Homo sapiens: one gene and its partner. The protein of the gene in region 2 purifies or fractionates together with the protein of the main gene of each other region. This does not show direct contact. Each region holds a gene or a part of one and is shown on either strand. Other genes may lie near its edges.

Evidence for each region. Proteins that work in one complex are often made in the same cells at the same time.
Region 1: the proteins of SNRPA (region 2) and SNRPE purify together in Homo sapiens (co-immunoprecipitation; 5 studies listed by BioGRID and IntAct, with this or other methods). This does not show direct contact.

What each region holds. Positions count from the first base shown.
Region 1 is NC_000001.11:203,859,450-203,863,195, forward strand, and holds the start of SNRPE (small nuclear ribonucleoprotein E), read left to right. Parts: upstream 1-2,149; 5' UTR 2,150-2,210; coding exon 2,211-2,264; exon of another isoform or gene 2,265-2,278; coding exon of another isoform or gene 2,279-2,294; intron 2,295-2,397; exon of another isoform or gene 2,398-2,464; coding exon of another isoform or gene 2,465-2,506; intron 2,507-2,732; coding exon of another isoform or gene 2,733-2,746; coding exon 2,747-2,773; intron 2,774-3,746. UniProt on the Homo sapiens protein: Plays a role in pre-mRNA splicing as a core component of the spliceosomal U1, U2, U4 and U5 small nuclear ribonucleoproteins (snRNPs), the building blocks of the spliceosome.
Region 2 is NC_000019.10:40,749,465-40,753,210, reverse strand, and holds the start of SNRPA (U1 small nuclear ribonucleoprotein A), read right to left. Parts: upstream 2,009-3,746; 5' UTR 1,803-2,008; coding exon 1,730-1,802; intron 1-1,729. Other genes in the region: ACTMAP (actin maturation protease), read left to right, coding at 3,408-3,730. UniProt on the Homo sapiens protein: Component of the spliceosomal U1 snRNP, which is essential for recognition of the pre-mRNA 5' splice-site and the subsequent assembly of the spliceosome. U1 snRNP is the first snRNP to interact with pre-mRNA.

The sequences.
Region 1 (3,746 bases), on a different chromosome or scaffold from region 2:
GCCAAGGTCTCATTATGTTGCTCAGGCTGGTCTTGAACTCCTGGGTTCGAGCAAGCCTCCTGCTTCTGCTTCTCAAAATGCTGGGATTACAGGCATGAGCTCGCGCACCTGGCTGAAATTTTTTTTTTTTTTTCTTTGAGACAGAGTCTTGCTCTGTCACCCAGGCTGGAGTGCAGTGGCGCGATCTCGGCTCACTGCAACCTCTGCCTCCCAGATTCAAGCAATTCTCCTGCCTCAGCCTCCTGAGTAGATGGGACTACAGGCGCCTACCACTACGCCCAGCTAATTTTTGTATTTTTAATAGAGACGGGGTTTCACCATATTGGCCAGGCTGGTCTCAAACTCCTGACCTTGTGATCTGCCTGCCTCAGCCTCCCAAAGTGCTGGGATTTACAGGCATGAGCCACTGTGCCCAGCCCTGGCTGAAATTTTTTAAAGGAAATAGTTATCCCATGCATTTGCCAGCTTTGTGTAGTTTATTTATTTATTTATTCTTATTTATTTTTTTGAGACGGAGTCTCGCTCCGTCACCAAGGCTGGAGTGCAGTGGCATGATCTCGGCTCACTGCAACCTCTGCCTCCTGGGTTCAAGTGATTCTCCTGTCTCAGTCTCCCAAGTAGCTGGGATTACAGGCATGTGCTACCATGCATGGCTAATTTTTGTATTTTTAGTAGAGACAAGGTTTCACCATGTTGCCCAGGCTGGTCTCGAACTCCTGACCTCAGTTGATCCACCTGCCTCGGCCTCCCAAAATGCTGGGATTACAGGCGTGAGCCTGGCCGCTTTGTGTAGTTTAAAAATCACTTTCAACTCAACCCCTTTCTGAAGTCGTTATTACTATTATCCCCATTAAACAGAAGCCCTCAGAAAAGCTAATTTTGATTCTGCCATTTGCCCTAATCCGTGTTCCCTTAGGCAAGTCCTTTCAAAAGTCTAAACTTCAGTTTCCTCCTCTATAACATGTGTATGCCAATTAAGTGAAATCTCTGCCAGGCCACAAGCCATGACACAATGGAAAGGTAGGTGGACTTTGGGGTCAGGCACACCTACAAATTCCAGCTGCTCCACTTAGTAGCTGTGTTATCCAGGGAAGGACATGTTCTGACACTGGCTGACGCCTAACTGTGTGCACACATAGACAATTATTTCATTGAATCTTTAAGCCCCTGAGTAAAGTTAATCTTTACTATAATCTCCGTTTTGGAAACTAAGCCAAGACATGGCGAGGCTGAGTAATTTATCCTTGGTCACCAACTCTAAAAGAGCTGGATTTGCGCCCAGCATGTGGATTTCAGCGTCTTCCTGGTAAATCGCCACCCTCAGTTGCCACCTGAACAGTAACTCTCCACGAAATGGATGAGAATTGAATCCGTAACTGGAGGGAACCAGGCGTCTGGCTTTGGAATGCAGACCGCCTCTGGCCGACTGCCAGAGGTGGGAGGCCTGAAGTTTGGGCTCCTTGCCGCCCTACCCTTTCCACCACAACGCTGCTATCAAGCCTAAACTCCAGCAAAATAGGCTTTAGGAAAGGCACGAAATTAACTCATTTTACACATAGAGATACACACTGGGACGATTTTGGCTTTTCAAGCTAACTCAGAAAATGGAGATACAGGCCGGGCGCGGTGGCTTACGCCTGTAATCCCAGCACTTTGGGAGGCCGAGGCGGGCGGATCATGAGGTCAGGAGATCGAGACCATCCTGGCCAACATGGTGAAACCCCGTCTCTACTAAAAACACAAAAAATTAGTCGGACGTGGTGGCAGGCGCCTGTAGTCCCAGCTACTCGGGAGGCTGAGGCAGGAGAATCGCTTGAACCCTGGAGGCTGAGGTTGCAGTGAGCTGAAATCGCGCCACTGCACTCCAGCCTGGGCGACAGAGCGAGACTTCGCCTCAAAAAAAAAAAAAGAAAAGAAATTGGAGACAGGACGGCACTCCTCCTACCACGGCCACTATACAACCGAAGGCACCTCCTCCCGCCTCCCTCCAGGTGGCGCTGTAGGACCGGCCCACCTTCCACAGCGCAGACGCCTCAGTTTGGCCTCCCTCGGAGGCCATGCAGCGAAGAAACGTGACTTCATGGCTAGAGGGGCATTTCCCAGGAGCCGCCCATGCCGCCGCGTGACCTTCACACTTCCGCTTCCGGTTCTTTATTCCGGAAGTTGCTCTCAGAGGCAGCGTGCGGGTGTGCTCTTTGTGAAATTCCACCATGGCGTACCGTGGCCAGGGTCAGAAAGTGCAGAAGGTTATGGTGCAGCCCATCGTATCCTACGCAGGATGTCAGGACTAGGAGGTTCGGGTCAGAATACGGGGTGCGAAGGCGCAGGCTGAGGGCAGGCCTGGGATAGTGGAGTACGGATCCACATCCCATGAGCCCCCGGGGCTACCAAGACTGGAAGAAAGCGCGGGTAGTTGAACCGTGATGGTGGGGAGGTGGTCTTGGGGGGACCCCTGCCGTGGGGAATGCAGGAATGGACGCGGCAAAAGGAGGGAAGAGAACTTCAGGTGCGGAGTGAAAACGGGAGTTAACGGTTTTGGGAAACTCCAGGGGGATGAAAGTGGAATGGATGTTCTTTAGTCTTTAGAAGACCCGTAACGAATGCCCAGCTGGGCACTTGTTGTTTGCGTAAGCACCAGACCTCGCGTTTAGTAAACAAAGGTGAGACGGGAATAGCGTCGTCCGGTTGTTTCAGGAAGCAGAGTCTATGCTGCTTTTGTATTTTTTCCTTAGCCACTGTGGTGCAGAACCTCATCTTCAGATACTTACAAAATGTACGTAAGTTGCTTGTTTCGTAACTACTTTTTAAATAAGAGGTGAACTGATTTAGTTTTTTGTGTTAACCTGAGCGATCGCTGTGTTCTAGAATTTAAAAATAGATGTAACTGGAGATTGGAGGGTAATTGAGGGGAAGGAGTACTTAGAAAGCACTAATGTGATGAAGTGGTGTGTATCCATGCCACTTCCCAACATGCAAAGAATTGTATCCATTACTTTGCAAGATCAAAAATACTTTTTAATTCCAAAAAGTATTATTAGCAGACTTGACCATGGTATTTGGGCATCAGTAGTTTTGTTAGTAGTGATTATGGCTAGAACATTGGAACCTCTCCCCTTTAGGATGAAACATTGGAAGAAAAACCCAGCCAACTTAAACCATGTCAAGAGGTGGTGTGTTTAATACCTGTGGGAAAACTTAAAGACGAAAAAAGGAAGAGAGAAGGGGTAGCTTCAGAGGAGTTTAGTGGCAGCTGCTTTCCTTTGAGGGAAATTTTAGCAACTTAAATTTTATAGTGTGATAACACAACTGAAAAACATTAATTTCAGGTGATAATAATTCTTAACCACCTGAATTGAGGGCTCCTGTCCTAGTTGTTAGGTGTGTGACATGAGAAGGCTTTGTTTTGGAACTGGATTTTGCTGCAGGAGATAAGCCCTTGGTCATTAGAAATTACTGCTTTGTGCTATGCTGTCAAAAACTTTCACTCTTAATAGATTGAGACCAGAAGCAGTAAGAAATATTGAGTCCCAAAATCACAGGAAAATTATTAGCTTATACAGTTCCAATATAGAACTTATTAAATGAAAATTCTTTTTGAGGTTATTATTATTGGTGAATAATTCTTAGATATGGGCTAATTAGTTAAAACTTTTGACTTACATTCATTACAATTTTTTTAGGAGCCATATTTCTCTTGTCGTTTGACCAAAATGGTTAGGTTTTGTATACTTCAATTTTTTGGGGGG
Region 2 (3,746 bases):
GCTGATTTTTGTATTTTCAGTAGAGACGGGGTTTCACCATCTTGGCCAGACTGGTCTTGAACTCCTGACCTCAAATGATCTGCCCACCTCAGCCTCCCAAAGTGCTGAGATTACAGGCGTGAGCCAGTGCCCGGCTGCTGGTTTTGCTTTCTTCAACAGCAACTTCACTGGTAACCTCAAACTGAATCCCAACAAGCTCCTTCGGTTCTCCCGATAATTTTCTTGAAGTGATAAGAGCTAACATTTATCCAGCCCTTTACTAGCTGCCAGTTACCATAAAAAAGAAATACTGCAAGGTTTAGCTAATTTAATCTCCCCCAACATCCATGCAAAAAAGGTATTATGATTTTGCTCAGTTTTTAGATCTGGAAAATGAGGTTCAATAAAGGTGATAATTTACTTGAGAATGTGAGAGAGTCTTTCCGATTTCAATAATTGAGTTCTTTTTTTTTTTCCTTTTTTCAGATAGGTTCTTGCTCAGCCCAGGCAGCAGTGCAGTGGTGCAATCATAGCTCACTGCAGCCTCAACCTCTCTAGCTCAAGCGATCCTCCCACTTCAGCCTCCCAAGTAGCTGGGACCACAGACGCACCCCACCCACGCCCAGCCTTTTTTTTTTTTTTTTTTTTTTTTGTAGAGAAAAGGTCTGGCTTTGTCGCCTAGGCTGATCTTGAACTCCTGTGTTTCAGTGATCCTCCTGCCTCAGCCTCCCAAAGTGTTGGGCTTACAGGCCTGAACCACCACGCCCGGCCAAAAATTGGGTTCCTAAGCAGAATTCTATACGGGTGGCCTCAACCACTTTACTTGCTATGTGACCCTGGGCAAGTCACATCACCCCTGTCTCAGTTTCTTTTTCTTTTCTTTCTTTTTTTTTTGAGACGGAGTTTCGCTCTTGTTGCCCAGGCTGTAGTTCAATGGCGCAATCTCGGCTCACTGCAACCTCCGTCTCCTGGGTTCAAGCAATTCTCCTGCCTCAGCCTCCCGAGTAGCTGGGATTATAGGCATGCGCCACCATGCCCGGCTAATTTTGTATTTTCAGTAGAGAAAGGGTTTCTCCATGTCGGTCAGGCTGGTCTCGAACTCCCGACCTCAGGTGATCCGCCCGCCTCGGCCTCCCAAAGTGCTGGGATTGATTACAGGGGTGAGCCACCGCGCCCGGCCCCAGTTTCTTAGTTGACGAATGGGAATAACAATAGCCTTCTTCCTACAAGATTGTTGTGAGAATTAAATGTTATCAAGATTTATATGAAAGCACACAGACCAGCCCATGATACAGAGCGTTAGCCACCATTATGGTACATGTTCATTGTGGGCTGATCACTGAAAAAGCCGGTGACCAAGAAAGCCCCAGTCCTTGCCCTCACGGAGTTCAAAGGCCACTGGGAGGAGAGAGAGCCCCACGACAGCTCAGAGGAATCAGGGCTTGATGGGAGATGGTCTCAGCGTACGGCAAGTCAGCGGCAGCCACGTGAAGGGACAAGGCAAGGCTTCCTGGAGGAAGGGTCCTGTGACCTCAAACCTTGTAAGATGAGCAGCAGTGACCACGTTAAAGGGCAGAGTGTAAGATGAACTAATGGAGTGTTGAAGACAGGAAGTAGTTTGTGTAAAGGCCAAGGAGTTAACTCGAAGTTTGGCTGGACAAACACTTAGAAAGAGAGGCGGGTGCAGGGGACGGAAGAGGGGCCAGCCCGTGCGGGACAGTCTGGACTCCGGACTATCCCGAGAACTCACCATCCTTCTTGATCTTCTCATTGAGGTTGTTGATATAAATAGTGTGGTTAGGGCGGGTCTCGGGAACTGCCATGGAGTGAAGTGTTGAGGTAAGTCTTAAAGGAGGAAAAACGTGACTTTAGCCCTGGGTTTCTCCAAATCCTTTGTCCCAACGTCGGCTGCTCAAGGATCTTCCTCCGAAAAGGAAGTCAGGTAAGGCGGGAGTAGGGGCAAGGACGGAGGCAAAGCGCGACAACAAAGCGTGCGTAGGACCCGCTTCTCCAGCCCGCGTGCGGAGAGAACTCTCGAGAGATTTACTACGACTTCCAGGATGCTCTACGCGACCCGGTGGGCGGAGCACCCTAAATGGCGATTCCCATTGGCCCAAGCATCCGAAGGGCCGTCCCGGAGAAAAAACCCGGATGTGGGAGCCAGTATAGAAAAAAGGGACAGGTCCTAGGCAGCCTGGCCTCGAGCAGCAAGTTTCCTCAGACGGGCCCAGGAAGGCCCGGACGCCAAGCGTACCGCTCGCCTGCCGCCGATGGTCGTTTGCACCGGAGGTTACCTTCCGACAGGGCCGTAGTTCTCTCAACCGGCGCCTGCTACTTCCCTGAGACCAAACCACAAAGCTTTCTCTCCTGGCCCCGCCTCTGCCTTTCTGCCAGCCAATCGCCGCGCGGAAACGCAGTAGCTTGACCAATCAGAGCAAGTCTCGTTTCTGGGCTCAGCTGTTGCCAATCAAAACGATATTTGGGTTCCCGCCTAGGTAGAAAAACCCCGCCCCACTCCCTGAAAGCCCACCTCCTTCCGTGGCGCCCGGGTCTACGGACCAATCAGTGAAGGTCACGAGTCTGTACGCGTCTCGCGCTGCGGTGTCTTCCGGAGGCAATCCTTTTTGGAGTCCCGCCTCTTACCCCCGCCAGAGCTGCGTTTTCTGTCACGTGATCGCAAAATGGGCGGGAACTGTTGCGTGTAATACCACGTGATATGGGAAAGGCAGTGTGCGGGGGCCGCCATTTTCCGGGAGTGGGAGGTGCACTTTACTTCCTGACTCCTTTCCTTTTTCCAGTGGTTATCGCGGCGCCCACCGGCCTCTGATCTCTGAGTCTTCTCCAACCCACAGACGTTTTTTGTTGCTCTGGTTCCAGGACCTTCTCCACAACTAGGCCATTTTCCCTGCCAGGTGTCCTTTTTGACCTCTTGACCTCTGACTCAAAGGTCAGCTCAAAGGTTCCGAACTCGGGCCTGGGATGTGAGGGGGTACTGAACCTAAGTTCTCCGAATCTTTAGCCCTGGGTCCCTAAGTCGCATCCTTAAGGCACCTCACTCTAGATCTGAGCCTTCATATCCCAAACTCACTCATGAGTTTCCACATCCAGCCCCAAAGAATGAGTTAACTCCTACTAACTCTCCACCTAAGACTCCCGAGGTAACCCAACCGGTACCACAGATCCGGTTCCGGATTTAAGGACCCCACCCTGTTAACCGTCAGGTGCCTTATGACTTGAGTCAGCCTCGCAATTCCTGCTCCCGTGGTTTCAAATATTAGCCCTGGTCCTTTCACACCCACTGCTCAGTCCCCAGATTCTGGAACTCAGCTCTTAAACCTTTAAAATCTCCATCCCTGAGACCGTTCTCCGTTGGAGGATCCTTCCCTCCCCGCTTTCTGAACCTCTCAACACCTCCTGTAGACCCCAAAATGACTTCTCCATGCTCTCCTCCCCTAAAACCACCAATTTCTCCTCCAAAAACCCCTGTACCCCAAGCCAGCAGCATTCCATCTCCTCCTCTACCCCCAAGTCCCCTGGACTTTTCAGCTTTACCATCCCCTCCCTGGAGTCAGCAGACCCCTGTTCCCCCACCGCTCCCACTGCCTCCTCCACCCGCTGCCACAGGGCCTGCTCCCCGTCATGTCTTCGGCCTGGAGAAGAGCCAGCTCCTGAAGGAGGCCTTTGATAAGGCCGGCCCGGTCCCCAAGGGCAGAGAAGATGTGAAGAGGCTTCTGAAACTACACAAGGACCGGTAGGGTCTCCATGCC